Homo sapiens: one gene and its partner. Each later gene encodes a partner of the first gene's protein in a complex. Each region holds a gene or a part of one and is shown on either strand. Other genes may lie near its edges. The genes, in order: BMPR1B and FKBP1A. A codon is read from its position in the direction of its gene.

What was found.
Region 2: the proteins of BMPR1B (region 1) and FKBP1A are in contact, whole or in part, in a crystal structure (PDB 3MDY), measured with the Homo sapiens proteins. Residues at the interface, in NP_001194.1 of Homo sapiens: Leu179 (codon at 5,229), Gln182 (codon at 5,238), Ser183 (codon at 5,241), Ser186 (codon at 5,250), Pro193 (codon at 5,271), Leu194 (codon at 5,274), Leu195 (codon at 5,277), Val196 (codon at 10,020), Gln197 (codon at 10,023), Arg198 (codon at 10,026), Thr199 (codon at 10,029), Lys202 (codon at 10,038), Gln203 (codon at 10,041), Glu238 (codon at 10,146), Trp241 (codon at 10,155), Phe242 (codon at 10,158), Thr245 (codon at 10,167), Glu246 (codon at 10,170), Gln249 (codon at 10,179), Ala264 (codon at 11,384), Ile266 (codon at 11,390); in NP_000792.1 of Homo sapiens: Tyr27, Phe37, Asp38, Asp42, Arg43, Lys45, Phe47, Lys53, Gln54, Glu55, Val56, Trp60, Tyr83, Thr86, Gly87, His88, Pro89, Gly90, Ile91, Ile92, Phe100.

The regions. Positions count from the first base shown.
Region 1 is NC_000004.12:95,119,843-95,135,438, forward strand, and holds part of BMPR1B (bone morphogenetic protein receptor type-1B isoform b precursor), read left to right. Parts: intron 1-3,967; coding exon 3,968-4,064; intron 4,065-5,140; coding exon 5,141-5,279; intron 5,280-10,019; coding exon 10,020-10,212; intron 10,213-11,372; coding exon 11,373-11,670; intron 11,671-15,596. UniProt on the Homo sapiens protein: On ligand binding, forms a receptor complex consisting of two type II and two type I transmembrane serine/threonine kinases.
Region 2 is NC_000020.11:1,379,271-1,394,866, reverse strand, and holds the start of FKBP1A (peptidyl-prolyl cis-trans isomerase FKBP1A), read left to right. Parts: upstream 1-1,812; 5' UTR 1,813-1,868; coding exon 1,869-1,905; exon of another isoform or gene 1,906-1,967; intron 1,968-1,985; coding exon 1,986-2,033; intron 2,034-15,596. UniProt on the Homo sapiens protein: Keeps in an inactive conformation TGFBR1, the TGF-beta type I serine/threonine kinase receptor, preventing TGF-beta receptor activation in absence of ligand.

The DNA of each region.
Region 1 (15,596 bases):
GGATTTTTGTTTGTAATAGATAATCCAAAGATTTTCTGAAATATTTTGAAGATGTTTTTCTTTTTTTAAATTTCAGATTTCATTTGTACTTACAAGGGGTACATGTGGAGACTGTTACAGGAGTTTATTGGACCCAGGTAGTAAGCATAGTACCCAATAGGCAGTTTCTCAACCCATCTCCCCTCACCCCCGTTAATCCACAGTGTCTGTTCTTGCCATGTTTATGTCCATGTGTGCTCAGTGTTTAGTTCCCACTTATAAGTGAGAACATACAGTATTTAGTTTTCTGTTCCTTCATTAATTCACTTAGGACTATGGCCTCCAGCTCCATCCATGTTGCTTCAAAGGATGTTATTTTATTGTCTTTTATGGCTGCGTAGTATTCCATGGTGTATATGTACCACATTTTGTTTATCCAACACACCATTGATGAGCAACTACGTTGATTGTGTGTCTTTGCTATTGTGAATAGTGTGGCAATGAACATACAAATGCATGTGTCTTTTTGGCATATTCCTTTGGATATGTATACAGCATCACTCCTATTCAGCATAGCACTGGAAGTCCTAGTCAGAGCAATCAGACCAGAGAAAGAAATAAAAGGCATCCTTATGAAAAGAAGAAGTTAAAGTATCTTCACTGATGGTATGATCGTATACTTAGAAAAACCTAAAGACTCCATCAAAAGACTACTAGAACTGATAAACGAGTTCAGCAAGGTTTAAGGATACAGAATGAATATACAAAAAATCAGTCAATAGCCTGCCTTTCCTTCCTTCCTTCCTTCCTTCCTTCCTTCCTTCCTTCCTTTCCTTCCTTCCTTCTTCTTTCTTTTCTTTTCTTTCTTTCTTTCTCTCTTTCTCTCTCTCTCTCTTTCTCTCTCTCTCTTTCTGTCTGTCTCTCTCTTTCTCTCTCTCTCTCCCTCCCTTCCTCCCTTCCCTTCCCTCCCCCTGCTCCCCTCCCTCCCTTCCTTACTTCCTTTTCAAGATGGAGTCTCTCTCAGTCACCCAGGCTGGAGTGCAGTGACACGATTTCTGCTCACTGCAACCTCCACCTCCCGGGTTCAAGCAATTCTCCCGACTCAGCCTCCTCAGTAGCTGGGATTACAGGCGTGTGCCATCATGCCCAGCTAATTTTTGTATTTTTGTAGAGACGGGGTTTTGCCATGTTGGCCAGGCTGGTCTTGAACTCCTGAACTCAGGTGATCCGCCCACCTTGGCTTCCCAAACTGCTGGGATTACAGGCGTGAGCCACTGTGCCCAGCCAGTCAGTAGCATTTCTATACACCAATAACATCCAGGCTGAGAGTCAAATCAAGAACACACTCCCATTTACAATAGCCACAAAGAATATGAAATACATAGGAATACAGCTAACCAAGGAGGTAAAAGACCTCTACAAGGAGAACTACAAAACACTGCTGAAAGAAATCAGAGACAACACAAATGGAAAAACATCCTATGCTCATGGATTGGAAGATTTATGTTCAGTTTATGTGTTCATGATAATTTCCTAGATGTTTTGATCTGGGCATGCAGTGTGAAATAAGCGCATCACGGGGCTGTGCATTAACCCTTTGAGCACATTATTGTTTAGTAAGATAGTATCCTTGTTCTTAGGAAGTACCCTCTGAAGTATTTATAAGTGGATAGTGGCATTATGTCTAAAACTTTAAATGATCCAAAAATAATACAGACACACAAATAAGTAAACAAATAAAAAATTTGAATGCAAATGTATGTATGCATATTATACATAAATATTGAGAGAGAGAGGCATTGAGAAGGCAAGATAATTATTTTTAAAATGATGAAATGTTAACAATGAGAAATCTAGGTGAAGGGCACATTGGAATTCTTTTTTCTTATTTTTTTTCTGTAAGGGTGAAATTATTTCAAAATAATTAAAATCTTTGTTCACATTGATGGTAAAATAGAAATTACTGTTACCTTTTAAAAAGAATATTTGACAATATGTATGAAAAGACTTAAAATATATATCTTATGAACTAACACACCTACTTCTGGGAATCTTATTAAGGAAATAATCATTAGCATGTGCAAAGATGTATGTGTAAGAGTGTTTATTACAGAATTGTGTATAACAAAGAAGCCTTATGGCAGAATCTTTAGAATCTCCTGAATGTATGACAGAAGATTCACTTTCTAATTAGGATGATTTTATGTATAATACAGTTTAGTCTTTAAAAGTCAGGTTGTAGCTGGGCACAGTGGTTCACGCCTGTAATCCCAGCACTTTGGGAGACCGAGGATCGCTTGAGGCCAGGAGTTTGAGACCAGCCGGGCCAACGTGGCAAAAAGCCATCTCTGCTAAGCATACAAAAATAAGTGGGGCGTGGTGGCTCGTACCTGTGATCTCAACTACTCAGGGTGCTGAGGCACAGAATCGCTTGAACCCAGAAGGCAGAGGTTGCAGTAAGCTGAGATTGTGCCACTGCACTCCAGCCTCGGCCACAGAGGAAGATCCTGTATCAAAAAAAAAAAAAAGTCATGTTGCAATAATAAATAATTTCAAATAGGTGGGAGGACACTGAATGTTCCCAACACAAAGAAATGATAAGTGTTTGAGATGATGGATATGCTGTCTGATCACTGTTCATTATGTATGTATTAAAATATTATAATTATGTGTCAATATAAAAATCCTGTTGCAGAAAAAAATATTTGTTGTTCTGGAAAATGTTCACAGTATTATAAATGAGAACAACCTAGTTATAAATCAGTATATATTATATTTTGCTTATGAACATTTTTATTGAAATGATACTGTTAGCAGTAATTTTTCCTGAGTGTTGAAGAGGTAGTGATTTTATTTTATTTTGGTTAGTTGATCCTTTTCAGTTTTTCTTCATGTAACATATAATACTTCTGAGTAAAAAAAGTTACATTGAGTGGAAGAACATTCCCAGCCAAAATATTTAGGTGGCCATATAGTTAAAGGTATATAGTACAGTTGGAAAACGTCTTGTCCATAGCATCCAAAGTCATAAATTACAATACTACCTTTTAAAATTAAATGACAGTAATCACTCTCTCAAAGGTAAATGGTGCCTTTAATAAGAATGGTACTAATGGTATTACTATATAAGTGCACCTGGTTTTAAGTCAGTTTCCTCAAAATATGTCCCAGAAATCACCCGTGTAAAATTTACCTGGGATGATTATTAAAAATAAAGTACTTTGAATGGAAATCTTTGGGGTTAAAGTCAGTGAATATACATTGTATAAAGTTAAGTCATTTATATAAAATTTGAGGAATCTGATTTGTCAAGAACTAGAGTTAAAATGAGTAGTGTTTAATAATTTGTTGTATAAAAGTATCATACATTCTTTGGCTGGAACATATACATTCTTTTAAAATATGATTCAGTTTAAGAAAAAGTATGGATTTTGAACACATTTTTGTTTAAAACAACGCACAACCATATATTCTCTATTTGGCAACATTTGAGGGGTCCACTTCCTTTTTATCCACTATAAGATGACTTTATATACAACGAGTTATGTTTTATGTCCCATGAATTATATAGATGCTTTTTTATTCAAATTCATGGTATAGAGTACTCCAGAGACCACATGAGAAGAGCCTATGAACCCATGAGCTGCGTCTGTAATAAAGATGAACTACCTGTTTCTATTGTGGGTGCACAGACCCACTTAGCTTTGTTGATGTTCTTTCTGTAGTTTTATCCTGTGTCGAGCCTGTTCCTTCCAGACAGGAAGAAATGTGTGCTCTTGATTAAGTGCCTAGGTGAAGGATGATTCACGCTAGTCAAACTTATTTAATTTTGAGTATATATGGGTTTTTAAAAAATTAATTGGTATGTGAAAAGGATCTTTCACATTTTGTGCGTGATACTTAGCAAGTACCTTTAGGAAAGAGTTACTTTCTTATTTTTAAGTAAAAATATTCTCTTGATTATGGCTCTTTTTCTTTTTAATTTCAGATTTTGTTGATGGACCTATACACCACAGGGCTTTACTTATATCTGTGACTGTCTGTAGTTTGCTCTTGGTCCTTATCATATTATTTTGTTACTTCCGGTAAGTTTCTAACATGTAGATGCAAAATTTTTAATTTATAGTGTCTTCTTTTTACTAATATTCTGCTTTTGCCTGTTAGTGTTTCTCACCACAGCTTTATTTATCTTAATTAGATCTTATAGTTAACTGAAAATGTCTGTTACTGTTGATAAATATTTGTCCTAATGAAGTTACAAATAGATACCTATCTCATTTCTGCTTCAGACTTCAAAACTACCCATATAAATATTTTATCCCTAGGGAAACTAGGGTAGTTAGAGACTTCAGAGACTGGTTGTTACTTAGGTTTGATTCCAAGCAGAGAAATGGCCATGTTGAACTTAAGAGTTGCTCAAATTCCTTATTTTCTAAGCTATAACGTTTCTGATTATTAAAAGATTTTAAACATAATTTATAGATTAATCATTAAAATAAGGTCCTTTATTATATTAAATTCGGTAATTCCTATTTTTTTAATGGCCTATGAACTTATGTTCTAGATTGTGAAATATTAAGGACCTTGATATTTATGTCATTTGCCTTTTGATTAATTTATTACTCATTTGAGATACTCTGCAAATGGTCAGATTAATTGATTCAAATAAATTCATTTCTAATTGAAAACTTAAGTATTGACAAAAAGTTTTTAAAGATTAAATTTATATTATTTCTTTAGATATGACCTTATATAAGAGAGTTAGCTATAATGATTTTTGTACACCCAAAATTTACATCTTTAATTAATTAGGGACCTTAGAAAAGATTTTAAGGAATAATATTGGAGCTATTTAGAAACACTAGTAGAATGTAGTCTGCTTGGATATGTGCAATTTGAAATAAATAAAAGAAGAAAAATTGTAGATGCTTGAGACTGAGTAAAAATATGTAGTTTATTTAGTTTATTTTAAAAAATAGGTTAGCCAAACAGTAATGAGTTTTACTTGGGAAACCATAACTAAGAGTAAAAAATATGAAGCATTTAATGTATTATATTTAGGTGCTAAAATAAAACTGCTGTGATTACCATTTTAGTTGCAATATTTTACTCCATCATTGCATTTCATTATCTAAAATTATCTTCATCTATCCATCTTTAGGTATAAAAGACAAGAAACCAGACCTCGATACAGCATTGGGTTAGAACAGGATGAAACTTACATTCCTCCTGGAGAATCCCTGAGAGACTTAATTGAGCAGTCTCAGAGCTCAGGAAGTGGATCAGGCCTCCCTCTGCTGGTATGAGAAGAACACATCTTGAATTTAAAGGAAATGTTTTCTGAAAGAACTGTCAATGAATATGGGGTTTCACTTACTGAAATAGGGCACTGGACAAGGAGAAAGCTCTATGCAGTCTGTTGGACATCCGATCTCAGCTGCAGGGCTTCCTGATAACATTTTGACATATTGAGAGTAAGGTGATTGTTTTTTAATGTAGGTGTATGGTTACAATCCAGACCCTCAGACATTCTGATGAAGAGCAGATTAGAAAACATTAAACACGGGACCATCTTCCCTGTGTTTTCCATAAGGATAGCATTACCGCACTTTGGCCTGGCTTTTGAAGGCTAAAGTATTACAACCAACTGGCTTCTCAGTATTTCTACAAAGAAAGAGGGTTGCTTTTCAGCTGTGGGGTTTATGTTTCAGGGTAAAGTTCTGGCTTTTCCATTCAGGAGAAGCTTCATTTTCTGATGGTCAGCACTGCCAACCTTGAAGAGAATATATGAGCAAATACAATTTGAAAATCAATAGTATTACACTTATTTTTTTCTAAAAGAGATGTACAAATAGTAAAATCCCTTTTGGTATTAATGAATTAGATGCTCTTGGAATTTAAACTGAGTTCTTCCAGTGTTTCTTGCCTTCAAACTCATCTTTCCCATTACTGTGGAGTTCTTTCTCCAAAACCATTGATCTTGCACTGTTATGTCCTGGGTAAAATATCCTAATACCCAATACTGCTTGCAGGTCTTCTTTCCCAGCTTGGTATGTGTGGCACATAAACTCAACCTGCCTTCCTGACGTCTCCTCCCACCTCTTCCCAGTATGCTGCCTGGGCTCTAGCATCACCTTTGAGTAATTGTTTCTCAAATACAACATATATCCACGTCATTGCAAATGTAATCTCTTTACTGGACATCACTCCAACTCATGGCTCAAGGCCTACCTCATGTTTTACCTCTGTGACAACTTCTCAGTTACCCCAGACTAAGCCAGTCTATTTATCTTCTGTGATAACATTTTATTTTTAGCACTAATAATGGCCATTTAAAATAATGTTATAATTAGTGGTAATGTTCTTGTGTCTTTTGGTGGAGTCTGTCCTCTTTGGGGTAGAGGTTACATTTTGCTCACTTTCTATCCCCAGTAGAGTGGCTGATTTATTATAGGCGCTGTTCAATAATTTGTTTTTAAAAAGCTTTCAGCTCCTACTTTTAATAGCTATAAAAATACTGTCTTGTTTCTATAATCCAGATACCAAAAAATAATATTTGGCTCACATCATATAATGATTAAAAGCATATATTCTCAAGCCAAATTGTCTGGGTTCCAATCCTGGCCAGACATTGGCCTTTAAAACTAAATCAAATTCTCATTTAGTCCTCATAGCAACCCTATAAGGTAGTACCAGAAATATCAGTATAACCCTGTATTACACATCAGGGGATACAGGCCCAGATAGGTCAGCTAGCTAGTACGTGGAGAAGCCAGGATTCAAACCCAGATGATCTGTGCTCTTAACATTAGTGAGATGTGAACTAAATGTTGGTTAAATAAAACAAGAAAGTGCATTTGATGGCGGTAGGATGGGAAGGAGGGTTCTATAAAACTCAGTTCAATAAAGAAAAAGTCTCTATTACAGATTTATTTTCTGGTTTTAAGATTTGGTTATTAAGATAAACAATGCAGAGGTATACAGTTCTCTCTCCATATATTGATATGTGAGTGAATACCTCATCTTAACATTGATTTGTTATTAATTTTAATAACATAATGGGCAAATTAGTGCCTTATATATAACCACATACTTGGACCTTGTGTTTAACAAATGACTTTATACGTGCCCTTTAATTTTGCATCTTTTCTTTTTCATAAAATGTCAATTTTTTCCTACTTTAAAAGGAAATAATATCGTAGGGCTGTTGTAAGAATTAAGACTGTGTGTGTGTGTGTGTGTGTGTGTGTTCTGTGTATGTCTTCTCACAGTCCTGGAATAGTGATAATTCTTTATAACTCCTTATACATTCAGTTATTCTCAGAGTACATGAAATATAGTGATCTTTTTGAAAGTACAGTTATAGTCATTGTATCTTACAGGCATTTTATTTATACAATCAATCTAAAAAGTTGGTATCTAAGAATGTAATATAGAATTAAAGTTTAGGTACAGAAGGACCAGAAACATTTGCTAAATCAAATAAAAACTAAAATAAATCAGTTAAAAAATTTTGAAGTTATATTTTTAGGTCCTTACATGTTATAATAGCTTACTTTCTGTCTTTGGGATAAGTTGTTCCTATTCTATCAAGTATCGCCAATTCTGTCAAAACTTATAATTAAATTATAAAATGTATTATCGTTAGAAAAAAAAGCAGATGCAAAACTGCTTATGTTAGGAAATTCTCCATAGACTTACATGAGCAATGCTTTGTAAGATCTGTAAATTAAATATTTTTCTTTAATAAATGTGGGAAGTTTCCTCTCAAATGAGTGATTTCCCTGTGTATGAATTTGGCTCCCAACTGGTGCCCATGTTGCTCCTGTTTCCTTGTTTGGAAATGGAGTACAGTGGACTCAACATGATGTCTCATGGCGCACAGGGCTCCTAAAGAGAGGACGGCTGCATTACACATAAACTTGCTTGCTTATTTCCATCAAGCTTCAGTGGCTTCATGGTACATCAGCAGTTCTTTTTTAATAAATTACGAAATTTATAATCTTCATTATAAATAATATATAATATATAATGTCCCCCCAAAATGTTCATGCCCTAATCCCCAGGATTTTTTTTTTTTTAAGACAAGGTCTTACTCTGTCACTTAGGCTGGAGTGTTGTGGTGCGATCTTGTCTCATTACAGCCTTGACCTCCCAGGCTCAAGCGATCCTCCCACCTCAGCCTCCCAAGTAGCTTGTCACTACGGGTGTGTGCTACCACACCTGGCTAATTTTCATATTATTTGTAGAGCTGAGTTTTTGCCATGTTGCCCAGGCTGGTCTTGAACTCCTGGACTCAAGGGATCCTCCCTCCACAGCCTCCCAAAGTGCTGGGATTACAGGCATGAGCCACCGTGCCCAGACCTAATCCCTAGAATTTTATGTTCTATGACAAAGGTGAGCAAAGGTTGCTGACGATAAGATGAGATCATTCTGGATTATCTGGGGTGGCCCAATGTAATTGCATGGCTCTTAAAAGTACAAAAAGAAAAACTTTAAGTTTTTAATTGGTGTAAAGTATATCTCTACAAAGAATACGTTCCAGTTTGCTGATCAGGTGTTATAAGAGTTATACGCTAGATTCCTTATGTCCTCTAAATTATATAAATTGTAATAGATGCTTAGCCCTTTCAATCTTGGAACCATTGATATCAGAGTTCTTCAAATATTTTACTGTAAGTACAGATGTGATGAAGATCATATATAAAGAGACATTTAAATTTAATGCCACTTAACTCATATTTTCATTCTCTTTGTCTGTACTCCACTCTTTATAATATTGTTCAGAGCTCTCTTAGAGCTTGGTAAATAATATTATCTCCAACTTGTTACTTTCTCTTATTAACTTTTCTCTCTAATATGCTGGTTTGTCTACCTGTTTTGCATTTTTTATTGTGACAATTAACTGTCTCATTACAAAAATGTAATTTCCATTAATCTTTTCTTGCTTATTTTTTATTCAATTTTCATTTCATTTAGAGTTACTTGGCATTCTGTATCTCAGAATTCCAGTATGTAATCTGAAGAGGTTAAATCTACTTGGGTTGTTTCTGTTGACTCTCATTTATAGTGACTGTTTCTTTGTTCTAAAGAATTCATTCTCTATAATCTTCTCTCATTCTCTTTCTTTCTTCTCTCCCTCCATTTTTTTTTGTTCTCCTTTTTCCTCCCCATTCTTGGATATTTCCTTTATTTCCCTGTGAGCCCAGGAGTGCATTACAGTTTATTTCTTATGTTATACCCATGATCAAGTTGTATGGTGGCAAGAGTTCCTTCAAAGTACTATTATCCCGCCATAGTCACGGCATGAAAAGTATTCTGCAAATGGTTTCCTCAAGAGAGAGCATTTGTAATGAGGAGCCTTGGCATGCTACCAACCCATAGCAAATTTAGTACCATTTGATGCTCTCTGCTTAATGCTGAAGCCCTAGGTTCAGTTCCTCTGGTTTTAAAGGAGTCAGAGTTTAAACTCTGGATTCCAGTTCTGGTATTGTTCTTTGCCCAGACGGCAGCTTGGTTTATCGTTCCCTGGTCTGGTCTCAACTCCTTCCTTCCCTCCCTCCTTCCTCCCTCCCTCCCTTTTTTCTTCCTCCCTGCATATAGATTTCCTTTATTTCTGTATGTGCCTAACAATGCATTACAATTTTGTTTTGTTATATTTATACATGATTAGGTGTATGGTGACGAGTCTCTTCAGAGTATGTAGTAGTCCATTATAACGGGGAAGTGCAAGTATTCTACTCTGCTGATTACTATGAGCCTACTCAGGTTTTTTCTCTGAGAAAATAATAATACTAAAATAAAGTATTTCATAATTTGGAAGCAGTGTTTTGAACATTCAGAATCCACACTCAATCTCAAATATGTTTAAAAGAGTGTAACATAAATTAATAAATAAATACAAATAAGTTGTCTATATAGAGAAAAATACTAGCTAAATATATTTTACATGCAGTAATCGTTTCTTCTCTGGAGAAAAAAAGATTAAACAAATCTGTAGCGCTGTGAATACACTAACAGTGTGTTTTGGGATTTCACAGGTCCAAAGGACTATAGCTAAGCAGATTCAGATGGTGAAACAGATTGGAAAAGGTCGCTATGGGGAAGTTTGGATGGGAAAGTGGCGTGGCGAAAAGGTAGCTGTGAAAGTGTTCTTCACCACAGAGGAAGCCAGCTGGTTCAGAGAGACAGAAATATATCAGACAGTGTTGATGAGGCATGAAAACATTTTGGGTGAGTAAAAGTCTGCATAGCTATGTTCAGGGTTTCCTAGCTTTCCTCTGTCTTTCTGTTAACATCTGCATGTTAACTCATCTGTCTAGACCCGTTGCGAAATGTATTGAAGTTTTCTTCTTGGCATGGGCCCAAGAACATCATAAGTTTCTAATGGGAGACCTCACAGGAGGAATGACTAAGGCACTTCTGTGAGTAAGTGGTAGGCTGGAAATGGAATACTCTCAAATATTTTTTCTTCAGAAACAGGAAATGCGAGTGTAAAACCAGAATTTCTTAGGGTTTCTTAGGAATTTGAAGGAACTTATTTTTGTTTAAATGTTGAGAAAAGTTGTAGGAATCTTATCTGCAGGGTTTATTTATATCAATAGTTTATATTGAGAATTGATTTTGTTTCGCAAGTTAGAAATGATCTGTCTGGATCGTTCAAGTAGAAGGAGAGTAAGCTAATCAGTGGGGTATATTCCTTAATTCAAGAATTCAAGACCCTGTTTTGCAATGTCTTATGTGTAACCATAATACCATAAAGTAGTTTATATACCATAGTAGTTTGTAATACCATAAAGTAGTTTAAACATCAACTACTGATTAGGAAGGGACCATATTTTCAGATGTAAACTCTTAATCTTTCTCTACTCCTACAGGTTTTTTTCTTTTTCTTTTCTTTTCTTTTTTTTTTTTTTTTTTTTTTTTTGAGATAAAGTCTCGCTCTGTCACCCAGGCTGGAGTGCAATGGTGTGATCTCCGCTCACGGTAATCTCTGCTTCCCAGGTTAAAGCAATTCTCCTGCTTAGCTTCCCGAGTAGTTGGGATCACAGGCACATGCCACCATGCCCAGCTAATTTTTGTATTTTTAGTAGAGATGGGGTTTCACCATGTTGACCAGAGTGGTCTTGAACTCCTGACCTCAAGTGATCCACCCGCCATGGCCTCCCGATGTGCTTGGATTACAGGTGTGAGCCACTGTGCCTAGCCTTACTTGTACAATTTTGATTGCTTCTTATTGGTATTAGTCATTTAATACCATCATAGGCATAGTCAGGAAATTGAATGAAATGCTAAACAAAAATTATCTATGACAAAGAATGATGTTTGAGAATATGAATTATTCCTGATACTATTTGGAAAACACTAAACCTTTTCATCTTTTTTCCTTTTAGGTTTCATTGCTGCAGATATCAAAGGGACAGGGTCCTGGACCCAGTTGTACCTAATCACAGACTATCATGAAAATGGTTCCCTTTATGATTATCTGAAGTCCACCACCCTAGACGCTAAATCAATGCTGAAGTTAGCCTACTCTTCTGTCAGTGGCTTATGTCATTTACACACAGAAATCTTTAGTACTCAAGGCAAACCAGCAATTGCCCATCGAGATCTGAAAAGTAAAAACATTCTGGTGAAGAAAAATGGAACTTGCTGTATTGCTGACCTGGGCCTGGCTGTTAAATTTATTAGGTTAGTATCAAAGTGAACAAATACATGTTTTATGACTCTTTTCTGTTACTTTTTATTTTGTAGCGCAGTGCTTCTAGGATATTTAGTAGAAGAGGAATATCATTAATTTTGACATTTGACGGGGAGAACCACCAAACATTTTATTAGCAACACAGCATATTTGGGTCTGTTCTATTGTTTCTATGCTCATCAGAGACATTGCTTAGAGACTGTTCACATTAGGTTTGCAGCTGTCATTAAGTTATATAGAAAAGAAGTAGCTAATTCCTGGGAATACGTAGTCAGAATTCTGCATAACATTTGCAAGTAGGAAAAAGTTTTGGGGAAAATTTACAGATTATATATGGATAAAGACAATTTTTATATGGTATAGGAAAGATAACTTGCATAGATGTTTTGGGAGAAATGTTAGAAACTAATAAACAAAACCCAGCTGTTATTCAGTACTGTTATCCTGTACCTGAAACAGTGAATTTAACATCTGTGCACATAAACCAGAGCATGTTGTAAAACAGTGGTTTTCAGACCCTTAGGGCTGCTTGGGTTACATCAGTAGCTTCTTCACAGTAGGGAGGGGAGATGATAGTTGGGACTCTATTTTGCTTACTCTTACTTTAATCAGAGAGGCTCCTTCCGTCTCACAGATGATTTAATTCGAATAAATGGTTTCTCTGTTTGGAAAACAAAACAAAATGAGCTTGCAAACCACTGGTGTAGAGAAATCATCGTATAACTACCTTTTAAAGAACTCAGTTTAGGCTTAGCCATTAATAAATGTTGGATCATCTTGTGGATTTTTCTAAGTAAGACTCTGTAATACATGGAGAGGAGCACAAAGAAAAAGTCATGGAGATTATTAAAAGTTTGGAAAGTAAAATTCACAAAAAAAGACTGATTGATTGGTATTTTCGGCCAGAACTGAAGGCTGAGGTGTGATTTAATAACATACCCCAAATATATGAAGGTCTTCACCATGTAAAGGATGGGAAATTGAAGTTCTTGATCTTTAAAAACAAAGCAAGAGGAAATGATTTGGGCTATAGATTTAAGTTAGAAATATGAACCTCCTGCCAATAAAGATTATTAAATCCTTTCTCCCTTCTGATTTTTTTTTCCTCTGACCTACAACCCTTTTCAAGTCTTCCTATAAAAAAAAAAAATCCCACAATGCTTCTTAAATTACCAGCCTCTCTCTCCTTCTCTCACCCTGTTAAATTTCTCCCAAGAGTTCCAAAAGATCATCTGCTTCGAAAACCCAGCAATTTGTTAATAGTCTTGTAATTTGGCTTCTGTTCCATTCTCTTTGGACACTGCTGTATTCAGAGACACCACTGGGCTTGGTCACCAGAGGCCTTCTCTATTGCCATCACCCTATCCACAGTGTCCAAACCTTTCTTTCTCCTGTTTTCTTGGTGTATCTCTGTACTCCAACTTCTCCTTTCTCTCTCTCCACTGGCTCTGCTCTCTTTTTACCTCTTACATATTTTCCGACTGCTAGATTTCCTGCTGTATCTGCATTTCCTTCCTAGTTCCCAGTTTTGGCTGATCCATTCTTAATATTAGGTATCTGACATCATCTTTCGTTCCCTAACTTTTGGTTTGCTCAAGTGAATGAATTTTCTTTCCACAATATTCCCATTTGTACTGGGCCAGTGTGGGCCTTCTATACCATTTTTCTAGATTCTGGGGTGAAGCATTTTGAGTTACTTTCTCTTTGTCTCTCCTATTTCCAGTCTTCTGTACATGCTGCCACTGAATTTATTTTCTTGAAGCCTAATTTTGGGCATCAAAATAATTTCATAGTTTCCTGTGGCTTCGTATTAAAATGTAGTTAGAGTCCCTTGGTGCAGTGGACTCTTTTCTTTTCTGACCCTGGGCTATTCTTCTGCCCTATTTCCACCACACTTCTTACCTTTGGCAAGATTTATTCTGAAGACTTCACACTTCTCATACCATCAAGTGTTTATAACATGCTTTTATCATTACCCGAACACCCATATCCCCTTCTGTATCTAGATCACAACTACTGATCTTCACAGTTTCTTCCTTTGAGACACCTTTTTTTATTTTTATTTTTTAGACAAAGAGTGGCTCTGTCACCCAGACTGGAGTGCAGTGGCACCATCACAACTCACTGCAGCCTTGACCTTCGAGGCCCAAGCAGTCCTCCCACCTCAGCCTCCTGAGTAATTGGAACTTCAGGCATGTGCCACCATGCCTGGCTAATTTTTTTTTTTTTTAATAGATGGGATCTCACTATGTTGCCAGGCTGGCCTCAAACTCCTGGACTCAAGTGATCTTCCTGCATCAGCCTCCCAAAACGCTGGGATTATAGGCATGAGCCACCATGCCTGGCCCACCTGCTGTTTTTTTTTTCATTATACTTTTAAGTTCTAGGGTACACGTGCACAACGTGCAGGTTTGTTACATATGTATACGTGTGCCATGTTGGTGTGATGCACCCATTAACTTGTCATTTACATTAGGTGTATCTCCTAATGCTATCCCTCCCCCCTCCACCCCACGACAGGCCTGGTGTGTGATGTTCCCCACCCTGTGTCCAAGTGTTCTCATTGTTCAATTCCCACATATGAGTGAGAACATGCGATGTTTGGTTTTCTGTCCTTGCGATAGTTTGCTCAGAATGATGGTTTCCAGTTTCATCCATGTCCCTACAAAGAATATGAACTCATCCTTTTTCATGGCTGCATAGTATTCCATGGTGTATATGTGCCACATTTTCTTAATCCAGTCTATCATCGATGTACATTTGGGTTGGTTCCCAGTCTTTGCTATTGTGAATAGTGCCACAGTAAATGTGTGCATGTGTCTTTATAGCAGCATGATTTATAATCCTTTGGGTATATACTCAGTAATGGGATGGCTGGGTCAAATGTATTTCTAGTTCTAGATCCTTGAGGAATCACCACACTGTCTTCCACAATGGTTGAACTAGTTTACAGCCCCACAAACAGTGTAAAAGTGTTCCTATTTCTCCACATCCTCTCCAGCACCTGTTGTTTCCTGACTTTTTAATGATCACCATTCTGACTGGTGTGAGATGGCATCTCATTGTGGTTTTGATTTGCATTTCTCTGATGGCCAGTGATGATGAGCATTTTTTCATGTGTCTTTTGGCTGCATAAATGTCTTCTTTTGAGAAGTGTCTGTTCATATCCTTCGCCCACTTTTTGATGGGGTTGTTTTTTTCTTGTAAATTTGTTTGAGTTCTTTGTAGATTCTGGATTAGCCCTTTGTCAGATGAGTAGATTGCAAAGATTTTCTCCCATTCTGTAGATTGCCTGTTCACTCTGATGGTAGTTTCTTTGCTGTGCAGAAGCTCTTTAGTTTAATTAGATCCCATTTGTCAATTTTGGCTTTTGTTGCCATTGCTTTTGGTGTTTTAGACATGAAGTCCTTGCCCATGCCTGTGTCCTGAATGGTAATGCCTGGGTTTTCTTCTGTGGTTTTTATGGTTTTAGGTCTCACATTTAAATCTTTAATCCATCTTGAATTAATTTTTGTATAAGGTGTAAGGAAGAGATCCAGTTTCAGCTTTCTCCATATGGCTAGCCAGTTTTCCCAGCCCCATTTATTAAATAGGGAATCCTTCCCCCATTTCTTGTTTTTCTCAGGTTTGTCAAGGGTCAGATAGTTGTAGATGTGTGGTATTATTTCTGAGGCCTCTGTTCTGTTCCATTGGTCTATATCTCTGTTTTGGTACCAGTACCATGCTGTTTTGGTTACTGTAGCCTTGTAGTATAGTTTGAAGTCAGGTAGTGTGATGCCTCCAGCTTTGTTCTTTTGGCTTAGGATTGACTTAGCAATGCGGGCTCTTTTTTGGTTCCATATAAACTTTAAAGTAGTTTTTTCCAATTCTGTGAAGAAAGTCATTGGTAGCTTGATGGGGATGGCATTGAATCTAT
Region 2 (15,596 bases), on another chromosome or scaffold:
CCAGCCATGCAGAACTGTGAGTCAATTAAACCTCTTTCCTCCATAAATTACCCAGTCTCAGGAATTTTTTTTTTTTTTTTTTTTTTTTGAGACTGGTTCTCACTCTGTCACCCAGGCTGGAATGCAGAGGTGCAATCTTGGCTCACTACAACCTCCGCCTCCTGGTTTAAGCAATTCTTATGCCTCAGCCTCTCAAGTGGCTGGGATTACAAGCCTGTGCCACCATGCCTGGCTAATTTTTTTGTATTTTTAGTAGAAACTGGGTTTCACCATGTTGGCCAGGCTGGTCTTGAACGCCTGGCCTCAAGTGATCTGCCCGCCTCAGCTTCCCAAAGTGCTGGGATTACAGGCATGAGCCACCGTGCCCAGCCTCAGGTATTCTTTATAGCAGTGTGAGAATCGACTAATGCAGAAGCACACACACACACAGATCAGAGAAAGATTAGTCACATGTGCCTCCTTATGTCCTAGACCATGTCACAGTGTTCTCTTGCGTTACAGTGCCTCTGCAGGTACTGCTCCTTCTGCCTCCCCTTACCCCAACACATACACACAATTGGCCTTCTAACCTTGGCTAAACCTGGCTAAACCTGGCTAACTCAGGGAAATATCTGACCACATTCCAGACTAAGTGAGGCATCTCTGTTATATTAACACGCCCCTCACAGCATGTATTACTGTCTCATAATATTACAGATTTGAAACTTTACATTTATTCCGTATCTTTTTTTACTTAAACAGGTTATTTGATTATCTCTCCCACATCATACGTAGATTCTGTGAGGTCAGGGACTAAGTCTGACTCCTTCACCGCTGTATCCTCAGCACCTAGCACAGTACATGACATACAGAAGGTGCTTGTCAAAGTCAAAATAAAATATGGAGATGAATCTCTAAATGTAATGTTTTATTTGGGGAAGCGAGAATCGCAACTCGGAGCATACACACAGATCTGGTGGTCTTTGGTATGTCCGAAAAACAAAGAGAAGGCTGGGCGTTTTATTAGAAAGGGAAATGCATTGGCACTAGTAAAGTTTCAGGGAGCTGGCAAGCTCTGATTGGTGACTGACAGTGGTAAGTAAAACTAGTATTAGGTTATGGCGGGTTGTTTCAGCAGTTACTAGCTGAATCTGGTCTCAGGGGGACAGCAGGCCATTTCCGCAGCAGTTAGTGGAAATATTGGTTCTTGGAGCAGGCGCTGCGTGCCTCCAGTGCTTTTCCCCTGGCCCCTGGATTCTGATTCCGTTGGGCATAAGAAGAGTGACCCAATTCGTATTATCAACTTTCACATGCTCAATAAGAATGTATGCATGTAAGCTATGGGTGAGTGAATGAATTTGGACAACTCCTCCTCCAGTGAAGAAAAGCAGAACTTACAACCTTGAGCCACTTATAAAATACTAACATACTACCACCACCTGTGCGCTGTCTTCTCAGAACCATGCTCTTCCCAGGATGAGTAACTGTGTGCTTCTAAGTGGAAACCTGATGACAGTCACCCAGTCAGTGACTGGCGGACCCCCTATTATTACTCCCATTCTTTGGGCAGGGAGATGCTTAACCGGCTGGAAGCACAGAGGAAGGGCAGGAGAACGAAGCAAGTCACCCGGCAAACACAGCTGTATCCGGAGGCCTCCGGGCTTCCGGAGGTCTCGGGGCTTCTGGGCTTCCGGTCCCTCTTCCGGAGGCCTGGGTTTCCGGGACGTCGCGCGCCGTGTGGGGCGCGCACGCAGGGCTGGGCGTGAGGGGGCGTGCGCGTGCGCAGGCGACGCGCCGAGGTACTAGGCAGAGCCGTGGAACCGCCGCCAGGTCGCTGTTGGTCCACGCCGCCCGTCGCGCCGCCCGCCCGCTCAGCGTCCGCCGCCGCCATGGGAGTGCAGGTGGAAACCATCTCCCCAGGAGACGGTGAGTAGTGGCGCGCGGCGGCTCGGAGTACCTCTGCCGCCGCGCGCATCGGCTCAGCATGCCCGTCTCTGTCTCCTCAGGGCGCACCTTCCCCAAGCGCGGCCAGACCTGCGTGGTGCACTACACCGGTGAGTCGGGGGCCCAGCGGGGAGGGGGCCCGGGCCGCAGTCCGCAGCCCGGGTGCGGCTGGCCGTCGAGGCCTGGGGGCCCGGGGCCTGGGGTCCGGGGCGTGGCGGCGGCGAGGTCCGCATGGCCCGAGGCTGAGGCCTGGGCGGTGGCTCAGGGGCAGCCTGGGGCTTGCGGAACCCGGGCGGGTCTGAATCGGCGGCTGTGAGCGTCGGCTGCGGGCTAGGTGTTATCTGACCCGTCAGAAGCATTTCTGCACCTTAGATGCTGCCCTTATGCCCGCTGCACAGATGAGGAAACTGAGGCTTGGCGAGGCGAAGTCACTTTCCCAAGGTCTCACTTTCCCAAGGTCACACTTTCAGGAATGGGCAGAGCTCTGGCCAGGGACCATTAGGAAGGATTTGTACCATTTCTGTGCCCCTGCCCCCACTTCCATCCCTCCCTTCACTGGAGATGAGGACGAGGTAATTCCGAGTCTGCAGAGCTGCTGCTTCCTCCGGGGAACTCGGAATTCGCCCCTTTGCCTAGGGTGGGGAAACATCCCACTTCCTAAGTCATTGCTTTGGCCCTTCCTGGCCTTGGGGGAAGTAGAGCTGCACGGCCTTCTTCCGTCTTTTTACTTTTGAGCCACTTACAAATCCAAGGCTCAGTGACAGCGCTGGCTCAGGCTGACCGAAAGCTGCACGTGTAATTTAGTCCCCCAGCTCTTCTAGAAGTAGAGACTTTTCTCGTCCTCATTTTAAAGATAAGCATCTGGAGGCTAATACATAGTGATAATACAAGCCAAAGGAAATTTTAGACACCTCCCCCTCCCCAGCCAGAATTCAGACATCAGAGTCGTGTGCCTTGGGGCTGTCTTACTCCTTCTCCTTACAAGCTTGTCCTGGTTTGTATGGGGGCGGGGGAGGGGGAGAGCTGAGTTGGCGGAGACTCAGTGGCTGTGGGTCCCACAAGGGTGGCAGTGATTGGTGTAGCCACAGTTGTTGATACGAATAACCTTCCCTCCCCCTCCTCCTTCCCCTTTCTCAACCTTCCCACCCTTTCCTCTGTTCCCCCTCCTCCTCCCTCTTTTTTTCCCACTCCCTCTCCTCCTCTTCCTCCTCCTGGGTAGTAGGCTGTGGGCAGTTCTGGCCAAGTTGCTCACGAATAAGCTCCACCTTTCTCTTCCAAATCATGGAAACATGGAGGGATCCCTCTATTGAGGGAAATGACTTTCACTGGAAAGAGGAAAAGGCAACTAACATCCCCCCTCCCATGCCCTTTTATTTCTGTGGCCCTTCCCCGTGGGTAGAAATGGGGGCAGGAGGTAGAAGTTAAGGACTAGAACTTTAAAAATTCTGCCAAAGGAGGAGTTACTGAAACCCATCTTTCTGGGGAGCAGGCAGTCTCATGTCCGTGAAGGAAGCTGGAAAGTGCTTTTGATGTTTTAGATAGCTGTCCTTGTAGGCCACAGTCAGCACCTGAGCCTGGGAGGTCTGGTAGATGAAAGCGCATCCTTTTGGTGATTTGTCATCGGAAGGATGAGGAGAGTAACCATTTACAGTGCTGGGGTGAGTGGGCAGTTCATTCAGTTCCGCAGCCAACTGGGGCAAAGATTGGGACTCAAGCCGTGAGGAGCTGCCTTCTGCCGCACCCCCTCCCCACCCTAGCTTGTACATAGCCACACTAGGGTGCTTGGCAGCATGTGTCCCACTCCCACGTCTGCCCCTCATGCTCGCCCATGTTCTGGTGCTGCCAACAGGACTGGACCCCAGCATGTAGGCAGTGCCGCACTTCACCATGTCTCTTTGTGAAATATCCCCACACAGCATGTCTGGAGCCTTTTCCTATGAGAACAGATGGTCATGAGACCCAGAACACCATCAGGGTTTCCAGTGCCTCTTGAAGTGTGTGTTTTTCTCGCGGGTGGCACGCACCCACATGTTTCCAGAGCAGCAGCAGGACCCTGGCATGCATTAGGACAAAAGCTTTCTTTTTGATTTCGTTTTGATAAGCCCTATAAAGACGCCTTAGTGAGAAGCCAGCTCTGCCTCATGCTCACAGAATAGACTGTTTTCGAGCAGGCTGGTGGCTTTGTTCCCGTGGGTCTTTGTCACCAGCCTCCCAGGAATAACCTGTTTGAGACCTGTGGGGGCGTGAGAGGAGTGGGTAGGCACTGGGAGATCTCATCTGTAGCAGTTAAGGCTTTTAAGTCACTGGGAACAGAATCCATCTTGGGGGAACATGATCAGAAGGTGGAGGTTATAAAGGTTCCAGGGGTTTTCAAAGGCAGAAGCCCACTGGGTCCTAAGAAGGGAAAAGAAATAATCATGATGCCTCTAGTTCTCATCTCTGTTTTTTGGTTGTTGTTTTGTGTTTTGTTTTGTTTCCTGCCTGACTGCCTCAGTAGTCTCCTGTTAGAGATTTGTGTTTGTCTGCTTCTCCCAACTGGTGGGTGGTGGAAGTCCCCTGCATGCTCCCCCGTCCCCCCTCCCCCCTCCCCCCTCCCCATGGCCAGCTTCTCTGTCTTCTTTTGAGTATCTGGCTCAGATTTCTTGGCTGTGATTCTGATTGTTACTTCTCTGAGAAGGAGAGTTTGAGTAAGGTGAACACTCTTGATCCAGTCAGCTCTTGCCAGGTGTCCACTCAGCTGATTTGGGCACGGGTCCAGAGAAAGAGGGGTGGAAGTAAGGTGGCCAAAATCTCCCCTTAGCCATCACAGGTGTGCAGAGCACAGACTGACCTTTACCACATGGATGCTTTAAATGCCACTAATGGCTGTCAGTCACCTTGATGTCACTCTCAAGGGTCCCTCTGGTGACTTCCGTGACCTTCTGGCAGAGCACAGCATGAGCAAGGCCTCAAAGGAATGCCTGCACTACCTCTGTGGTACCAGAGGGAAAATACAAAGTTCACTATCACCAGCTAAGCATCTCCTAGGAGCATGACAGGCATTGAGGTGGGAGGGAGGTGGTGGAAAGGTAAGCTGCCAAGTAAGTGCCTTTAGGAGCCAGGGAATTCTCATGGCGCCTCCCTGCTGCCTCCAGTAGCTTCGTCATCTTTACTGTTAGCTTGTCCTGGCACACAGCTAGGTTTAGACCTCTTTTACTTACTTCAGCAGGCCGTGTGCCTGCCATTGTGAGAGCAGCCCCAAGGGGATTGAAGGAATGTTTTCTTTTTTCTTCTTAAAAAGTAACTAACTGGACATTTTGTCCTTGGGATCAGGTTTAAGTCAGGTATAGCCTCCCGGTTTCTGACTGAGAAAAACCAGGAGCCCCTCAACCTCATGTCCTCAGGAGGTTGACTGGGAAGGCTGCTGAGGCTCCCGGGACAGGTGTGGCCACTTTGCTGCAGCCTCCCTCAAGCCCCTTGCTTTTCCTTAGCTTTGTTCCCCCCTCTCCTCTGCTTTATTCCATCCACTCCCTTGCTAGGTATCTCTTGGTTGGTGATCTGATGTCTGGAGGGAGGCTCACCCTCAGCAGAGATGCCTCAGATGGCTTCCCCTGACGTGTGCTGTCTTGAGGCACACAGGCTGTAACTGTTGGGCAGGGCTGCAACAAGTCCCTTTGCCTTCCCACAGCAGATGTTTTTTGAGCAACAGCAGCAAGCCAGGCTCTAGGGACATGGCTAGTGAACTAAATAGACAAAGACCTGATCTGGTGGGGCTTTGCTTATGATGAGGAGACTGATAGTATGGCCATGGAGCACATCAGGTAGTAAGAAGCGCTGGAGAGATTAAAGCAGAGTGAGGGATGGGAAGGGAAGTTGGCTGCTTTTCGTGAGGGTGATTGGAAAAGGCCTCTGAAAAAAATGGCATTTTAACATTCACTCAAAGGACATTGGAGAGGGAGCTACAGGGCTGTCTAGAGTATCCAGGCAGAGGGAAGAGCTAGTGCAGGACCCTGAGGCTGGAGCCTGCTCGGTGCATTAGAGGAACAGTAAGAAGACCGGTGCGTTAGAGGAACAGGAAGTGGATTGTGTGAAAGGGTATGTGGCAGGAGATGAGGGGATGGTGGAGCCTCGTTGGTTTTTATAAAAACGTTGCCTTTTTCTAACTCAGGTGAGAGCCACTGGCTGGCTTGGCTTTTAATGCCCGCCCCCGCCCCCCCAACCCACGCTCCTTCTGGCTACTGTGTGGACAATGGGCTTTTGGGGGCAAAGGCAGAAACAGGACACTGGTTGTATCCCAGGTGTGTGGAGTGCCAGCTCAGGCAGTGGGCAGAAGTGGTGCCAGGTGGACAGTGATCCCCAAAGAGCATGTGGGTTCTTCGCTGTGTTCTGATCTTGACCCTGCCATACAACGGGCTATGAGAGCTTGAACAAATTGTCCCACAGTTCCCAGCTTCCACATGCTGTCTATAAAATGGGAGTAACGATGCCTGCTGTGAAGCAAATGCCTATCGAGACTACCCAGTTGTCTCCAAAGTGTTGCTCTTTTTTAAAACCACAGTTCCATTGAGCCTCACTCATCGCAGTTGTTATGTCTGTAATCTCAGTCTAGAAGAGTCCTTACGCTGTTTTTTTCTTAATAACTCTGATTTCTTCAAAGAGAGCAGGCTAGTTATAGAATACTCCACATCTGTCTTACTGTTTTCTCATGGTATTGTTTAACTTGTTCCCTGCCTTGATTTTCTGAACCGGATGTTTAATCTTTTAAGTGTCTGAATAGATTCCGTTTAAACATTTTAGTGTGAGTACTTCATCCTCAGCACACATGGGAAACATCACTAGTTGTGATGCTAAATTTGATCTTTTCTGTAAAGGTACATTTTTCCCTTTGCATTTAGCAGTGATCTGTGGAGTGCTTAGGTAGCCATAGATGGTCTCTTGCTCATCAGCCTTTCACCTAGTGGTGTTTACACCATCTGATCATTCTCCCCTGAAGAAGTCACTGGCATTCACAAAGTGTTGATTTTTAAAATTCCTTCATTCTTTCTAAATTTATTAGCTGTTATCCTTCTATAAGATAAGGTAAAGTAATTCTTTACCTTTAAATACCAAATTTTATTTTTATTTTTTGAGACAGTGTCTCTGTCACTCAGGCTGGAGTGCAGTGGCTTGATCATGGCTCACTGTAGCCTCGACCTCCCAGACTCCCATCCCGGCCTCCCATCCGGCCTTCTGAATAGTTGGGCATACAGGTGCATGCCACCTGTCCTAATTTTTGTATTTTTTGTAGAGACGGGTTTCGCCAGGTTTCCCAGGCTAGTCTCAAACTCCTGGCCTCAAGTGATCCACCCTCCTTAGCCTCCCAAAGTGCTGGTAGTACAGGCATGAGCCACCGTGCCCAGCCTTTAATTACCAATTTTTAAAATGAAAAATGAATGTTAACTGATGGGGTATTGCCATTCCCAGTGGGGGCAAGTGACTTTTTCCCCCTCTATTTGCTTTGACTGTACTGTGGGCTGAAATTTTTTGTCAGGGCCTTAAGATCAATGATACCCATTATTCTTTTTGATGCTAATATCATCCTAAATTTGGCCAGTAGGAGCCCTTTAAGCTGGCTCCAGTACCTTTTTGACAGGCTCCCACCATTCCTTCATCCATTTCTCGGTTTCACTACTCTGGTCCAATTATCAGCCATCTTTCAAAGAGCTCTGGTTCCTTTCAGTGGGGTCCATGACCTTTTTTTTTCTTGGTAACAGCTTTATTGAATATAATTTACATACCATAAATTCACCTATTTACTCATAGATGTTTTAACTAGAACATTTTTAGGCTTAAACTGATTTTTATGAATTACTGAGGGGTTTATTGTATCCATAAACTGGAAATCATTTGTCTGCCTTGGAATTTTCTCTAAAAATATTGTCACCTGCTGTTTCCCATGGAAGAAGCCAAGGTTATGAATAACTTAATCACATAGCATTCAGTTCTCCCTTTGGTGCTCATGGTGACATTTGTTTATTTTTACTTCTATTTTTTCTTCTGTTTTTTTGTTTTCTTTTCCTGCTAAAAAGCTTAACCAAGTCTCTGCATTCCCTCCCCTGGACCCCTTTGATTTTGACCAGGTGTATTCTAGCAGTGCAGAAAGTCGGGGAGGTAGAAATAACCAGTTCTTAGATGCTACTGTCTCTTTCTGTTACATTTGCTCTTCCTCTCCCAGGAGCTCAAGCCACCTTGGCCTGCATTCATTCCTCGAATGCTCCAAGCCTTTTCCCACATGGAGGTCTCTGCCCCTTTGCTTAGGTGCCACCACACTGCCCCCACTCCCCACTGCATGACAGGCTCTTTTCTTTATAGCACAGCTTAAGTAACACTTTGGATGCATACATGCATGCTTCTAATTCTGCAACAATGCACCCATCTATTTTCTTAGCCCCCATCATAGTCAGGATCCGTGTAGTTAAACATCTGCTCTTTCCCCAACCGACTGAAGGCTCCAGGAGGCCAGACCCACACTAGTGTTGTTCTCCAAGGTCTCCCCATCAGTCTTGGCATAGAGTAGCTATTCAGTGACTGTTTGAATGAGTGGCCAGTTAGGACCTGGCATTCCCTCGGTCACTCAGTGAATATATAAGGAGCTGGGCAAAGCCTCAATGTTGCCCTCAAGAAGCTTACCCTGTAGGGAGTGGTCAGTTACAATGAAAGTACCTCAGGCAACCTACACCTATAGGCTAGAACTTCTTGGAGGAAGTGCCATTTGGTCTTGGGTGTGTATGGTGCAGTCAGGCAGGAGGAAAGCGTCTTCCAGGTATATACACAGGCCAGGAGGAGAAAAGGGTACCTTTGATATTTCTGTAAGTACTTGATGAATGTCTGCTATGTACAAGACACTGTCCTGGCTACCAAGAATTTAGGAGTGAAGAAGACACAGTTCCTGCCTTCATCTCACACTGTAGTGGAAAAGACATAATAAATATGATTAATAAGCAAGACTGTTGTGTATAAGCTAGTAAGTGTTAAGGAGGGAATAGGAAAAGGTTGAGGTTTTAGATAGATTGGCAAAGGCCTCAATGAGAAAGTGACATTTGAGCAAAGACTTGAAGGAGGTAAGGATGTAACCTATGTGACTGTTTGAGCAAGATCATTTTAGGCAGAGAGAACAGCAAATGCAAAGGCCCACGGGTGGAGGTATCCCTGGTGTGTATGTAGAACATAAGGAAACAATGTTCTGGGACTGGAAAAGTACAAGAGTAATCAGAGGTGAAGTCAGAGGGATGGTGGTAGGGGCGGAGGCTTGACACTTCTTAGAGGGTCTTGTAGGCCATTTTAAGAGTTTTATCTCCTGAGATGGGGGAGTCACAGGAGTTTTTCAGCCGAGGGGTAGTAGGGTCTGGCTGCTGTGTCAGGTTTAGACTGTAGGAGAGCAAGAGCAGAAGCAGGGAGACCAGGGAGGGAGTTGTAATAATAGTCTGTAACAGAGGTCCAGAACTCATGCCTTTAACCATTATACCCTATAGAAAATGCATATTTCTACCACTTCCAGCTAGCTATTGTTAAGTGGTATTTCTTTTGATTTTTTTGGAGATGGAGTCTCACTCTGTCGCCCAGGCTGGAGTGCCCTGGTGCAATCTCGGCTCACTGCAACCTCTGCCTCCCGGGTTCAAGCAGTTCTCCTGCCTCAGCCTCCCAAGTAGCTGGGACTACAGGCGCACGCCACCATGCCCGGCTGATTTTTTGTATTTTAGTAGATACAGGGTTTCACCATGTTGCCCAGGCTGGTCTCAAACTCCGAAGCTCAGGCAGTCCACCTGCCTCAGCCTCCCAAAGTGCTAGGATTACAGGCGTGAGCCACTGCACCCGGCCTAGTGGTATTTCTTTCTCCCCCTCCCCATGCGATATAATGTGGTAGTAACTCCTCTTATTTATACTGTGATTAAAGTGGAAAATGGAGAGACACACCCACAGGGCATGCATTCTGGTCTGTGTTCTTTTTATTGCCGTTGGATCCTGCATATTCTTCCCATCATGGGCCCTGCCTTTGAAAATACACTTTTGGTTATAGGATCTAAAGGGATTTAGCCAAAGGTTAGAAGCATTTCCATACTGCGTATGGGAAATGTGCTTGCACTGTTGGTGATCTCAGGAAAATGATAGTGAGAGTGAGCTGGTTCCCTCTTTGGGTTGGCACTTGGACCTTTGGTCATACCCCTCACTCATAAGGAGTTCTCAGAACCCCACTTCAGGGAGGTTGTGCTGGAATACAGCCACAGAGACCCAGAAATGGAATAATAAGAATGTAAGATTTGAATTTGTATCTTTTGCCTATCTAAATGTAGAATCCCTTTTTACCCATCATGATTGAGACAAGTGGGTAGTTGGTATGCTAACATAAAAGTGACATGGCTTCTGTAAACATTTGATTTCAAACTCTAACATAAATCATTTGCTAAAGGACTATGTCTTTATCTTTGAGGATGGCTCTGCTAGTGGAGTTTCCCATCATAGTTCTTGCAAAAACCAATTTGACCTTTTTTAAAGTAGAGCAAAGAGTATTGTGAGAACATTTAAAAACCAAACCTTTCCAGATTTTTAAGATTTCTTTCTCTAAATGTAGTCTCCCATATGATTATTCACTAGCAATAGTTTTTTAGTGACTTGCCTTTATTGAGTCTTTCCCAGGAGTCAGCTAGAACCGCTGTTTGTATTCACACTCATTTTATTGATTTACATACTATTTAATTACATTATATTTACACAGTAAATATAGCTACCATAAATGGATTTGGGGACAAACACAGCTAACCACTCCTCCCTTTGTGAACACAGAACTCATATGGGAATGAAGAAGTGATCATGAGCTAGAGACTAAAGCATGAGGGGAGTGCTCTTCACTATGCTGGGGTACGAAGGCTGTGAGTTTTATGAGTCTCCAAGTAAGGCAGCTGAGTAAAAGGTGGTTAAGAGAACTTCTGTGTCTAATAAGAAGAGGGAAAGCAAACAGCTAAACCATTAGACCTTGAGCCATACGCCCATCTGGGAATGTTCTGAGTGGCTTCAAATGCAAAGCTGCAGAAAAATACTGGCTCCCCCTACCTCCACCCATTCAACCATTACACCTTTTTTTTTTTTTTTAAGAGACAGAGTCTCGTTCTGTTGCCCAGTCTGGAGTGTACTTGTGCGGTCATAGCTCACTGCAACCTCAAACCTCTGGGCTCAAGTGATCTCCCACTTGATCCACTCAAGTAGCTAGGACCATGTCTGGCTAAATTTTTTTTTTTTTTTTTTTAATTTTTTGCAGAAACAGGATTGGGGACATGAGTCTTGCTGTGTTGCCCAGGCTGGTTGCAAACTCATGCCAGTCTCAAACTCCTGGCCTCAAGTGATTCTCCTGCCTTGGCCTTCCAAAGCACTGGGATTACAGGCATGAGCCTCCTCCGCAGCTGGCCTCATTGTACTTTTTGTCATTAAGAAACTCACCTGCGTGTTGAAAGTAGAAATCCTTTTCCCTCTCCAAACTGTAAATGGCAAGGACTTTATTTTATTTTGAAGGTTTGGGGCTTAGGATATTCTGGTTTTTTGTTATGTTTGATTTTTGGTTTAGTTTAGTCATTTTTTTTTTTTTAATCTTAAAACTTCCCATATTTTGTCCCTGTAAAATGCTGCCTATAGGAAACACTCCTGCAAAGATTCATGAGCAACTATAAACTGCATTGTGAGTCATGAGCTTTCACTACAAGTAGTGAAGCCATAAGTCTGTAGAGGTGCCTTCTTCAGTCCTGTTACCCAGTAGAAGGTATATGGCACTCTGCCCTTCCCCAAAGCAGAGTGCCTTGGAAGTGACTCCATTTCTATTGGGTTATTAGTGAAATAGTATCCCAGTGGTCCTTGTGAATCTCCAGGTCCTGGTCTTGAGTCTTAACCACCGCTTCAGTGGCTTGAGCCAACCACCAGGAACACAGTCTGGGGATACTTTGCTGCCCAGGAGCTGCTGGCCAGGTCTCCCTCTGCTGATTCCTTGAAAAGCAACAGGAAAGAGCAGGCTGCTGTGGAGTAGACAGACTTGAGACTCTCTGCACCGTCTTGTTTTGTAAACCCTTTTGCTCCCTTTCCAAGGATTTCAGTTCAGGAGGAGACCCAGGCGAAGATGACGTCAACAGCCTCTGCATGCAGTCAGTCATAGCTTTGGCTTCTTTCATGGTCTTGTGCTTTTAACTGGAGCACATTTTCACATTTTTCTTACTGATTAGTAACTAAAGGTGCTTAAAGTAAAGTTTACCATTCTGGGATTACCCCTCATATTCTTGTTACCATATAGGGAAGAAGGTCTAAATATGAAGGCCTCATGCTTGTCCTTCTGGTTCTTAAAAATCATGCAAGTAAAGCAAATCCAAGAGTGCTCTTGAGTACCAGCACCATACGTGCCACCAGGACACAGAACGCAGGCCAGGTCTGTGAGCTTGGGCTGCATTCAGTCAGGAGAGCCAAGACTAAATACTTAAAATAAGAATATGGAGCTATTCCAGGCAGTTTGTTAGGCATGAGTTATAGGCTTGTACGGCCAGGAATGAAATTGGTCAGTTCTGCAATTAGAAGGCAATGCTTGTGATGTTTTATGCTGAGTGGCCTTTAGAGCTTAAAGACTGTCAGCTGTCTTGTCTGCACTGTAACCTCAGTTGCCTTCTCTGAGCAGGGCACGCTTTCTTTAGGAAATTATGGCACTAACTTGGCAGGTGGTTTCACTGTTCAAGGGCTCCAGCTCCTGGCACAAGTGATCTCCAGAGTTAAAATTGGAGCAGCTGCTGAGACTTGACTTGCTGCCTGCTTTACCTGTTCCCTCCCCAAAGAGAGGAAGCACTTTTCATTCATTGCCAGTGTGTATGTGGGAGCTAAACATATATAGCATTTTAGTAAATGCCACTGCCTACTCTTTTTCTTTTCCTTTTTTAAAAAAGTTACTGAGGCGTGATTGAAATCCAATATACTGCACATTTTAAAAATGTACAGCTTCATAAATTTTGATGTGTCATTGTTTCCCTTTGAATTCACCCCTCCTTACCCTCCTCTAACAACTACTGATATGCTTTTTTGTCAGTGTAGATTTGTTGCATTTTCTAAAGTTTTATATAAATGGAATCATACAGTACGTTCTCTTATGTCTGCCTTCTTTCACTTGGTATAATTATTTTGAGATTCATCTGTATTGTCCCATGTATCAATTGTTTGTTCCTTTTTGTTGCTAAATATTTTTCTATATATAGAAACATGTATTTACCAACTTACCCGTTGGTGGATGTTTGGGTTAGTTTATAGTTTTTGACTATCGCTAATAAATCTGCTTTGAACATTTGTGTACAAGTTTTTCTGTGGACATAGCCTGTCATTTCTCTTGGATAAATACTCAAGATCAGAATGGCTGGGTCATATGGGAGGTGTATGTTTAACTTAACTATCAAGCTGTTTTCTGAAGCTTTATGTTATATTCCCACTAGCAGTGTATGAGAATACCAGTTCCTTCACATCCTCACTAACACCTGACGTGGTCAGTCTTTTTAGCTTTACTCATTCTAATCAGTGGTGGTAGATGCGTTTCCTAGTGGTTTTAATTTGCGTTGTTATAATAACTAGGAATGTTTAGCATCTTTTCATATGCTTACCTGCCCTCTGTCTTTTTCAATGAAGTATCTGTTCAAATCTTTAGCCCTTTTTTATTGGTTTTCTTAATTGTTGAATTTTGGTTTGTTATATTCTGGATATAAGTCCTCTATCAGATATGTACTTTGCAAAAGTTTTCTCCCAGTGTATGGTTTGTCTTTCATTTTCTTAACAGTGCTTTTTAAAGTACTGAATTTATTTTGATGAAGTTCAATTTATTCTTTTATAGATAGTGCTTTTTGACATCATACTAAGAAATCTTCACCCAACTCGAGGTCACAAAGATTTCTTTCCTATGTTTTCTTCTATAAATTTGATAGGTTTAGTACTTAACATTTAGGTCTAGGATCCATTTTGAGTTAATGCTTGATAATGGTGTGAAGTTTTTACTGTGTTATGTGTGGATATTTTGTCATTTCAGCCCAATGTAATTTTCATCTCAGACATTGTAGTTTTCATCTCTGAAAGTTGGAGTCTTATGGTTCTCCTCTACTAATTCTAACATTTGTGTTAGTTCTGGGTTGCTTTCAATTGATTGATAAGTCTCCTCATTGTGGGTCCTGTTTTCTGCCTCTTTGCATGCCTGGTAATCTTTGGATGCCAGACATTGTGAATTTTGCCTTTTGGGGTGCTGGATATTTTTATTCCTATAAATTTTCCTGAGTTTTATACTGAGAAGCATTTAAGTTACCCGGAAACAGTTTGATGCTTGCGAGTCTTGCTTTTGTGATTTGTTAGGTAGGTCTAGAGCTCAGTTTAGGGCTGATTATTTCCTACTATAGGCAAGATCTTCCTGAGTATTCTGCCCAGTGCTTTGTCAATCATGAGCTTCTCCAGTTTGACCGGGGGGTAGTAAGCACTAATCCTAGCCCTGTGTGAGCACTGGATACTGTTCCTCTAAGCCTTTTGGATAGTTCTTTTCCTGGCCTTGAATAGTTTGCTCAGATACATGCACTGAGAGGGACTCTGCTGAATACTCAAAGAGGACCCTGCAGATCTCTGGGGATCTCTGTATAGCTCTCTCCTGCTGGTACTGTGTCCTATGGACTCTAGGTGCCTTGAGCTCCACTCCAGGTCCCTCTCCCTGGAAACTCCCAAGGATATAGGGCTGCCCTTGTTTCCCATGTCTCAGGATTTATTGTTCTTCATTACAGATGTCTGGTGTCCTACAAACCATCGTTGTAGCTATTTTGTCTAGGTGGTTTTTAGGTTTTAGTGGACTTTTTGTAGGGAGGAAGGGGTTGGTTGGTTGGTTGTTGGTTGTTTCATGAACAAATCTGATCCTTGTCCTCCACCGTGACCAGAAATGGAAGTTCTCACTATCTGTTTTGACATTACAGACTGAACAGCATAATTCCTACACATGCACACTCATTCCAGCTTAACAAACACTGCTTCCACCTTCTCCCCCAGGCTGACAACTTAGGGCCATAGATAAGTGGCCTGTTCCTCCCCACTGGGGAAGCCCTCCTTCTCCTTGTCCTGTAGCTTGTGCCAGTTGTGTGACACCCACTTAATCACATACCACCCCACCCATTTCGGGGGATTATTGTTTAGCTTTCGGACTCGATTATGGGAAATCCTCTCCTTGGACTCAAGGAACCCCAACATCACTGCCACCACCCAACCCTGCCCTGCGAAGATTTCTCCTTAGAAAGTAGATGAGATTGACAGTTGGTGACTGTGGTCTGAAATTCTGGAGCAAGTCTCATGCCCCTTTCCCAGGGACAACAGAGCATCCAAAATAGCATAGGAAAATTAAGATCCTAGGCAAAGGTCCTGTTTAAAGCTCCTTTACTTAGAAATCCTGCTTCCTGGCTTTTATGGTTTTAAGATACTAGGGAGAGGTTTGCCCCTCAGTGTCCAAGATAGGCTCAGGAGAGCTGGGGTTAGACAGGCATCCTCACATAGAGCCACTGAAGAACATACACATCTCCATGCTGGCTCAGCAGCAGCAGCAGCAGCAGATTCAGGCTGTGTCCTGCCTAGTGCTCCTAGCCTGGTACCAGTCAGATAGATAGTTGAAGTATCTCACCTCAGGCAAAGCA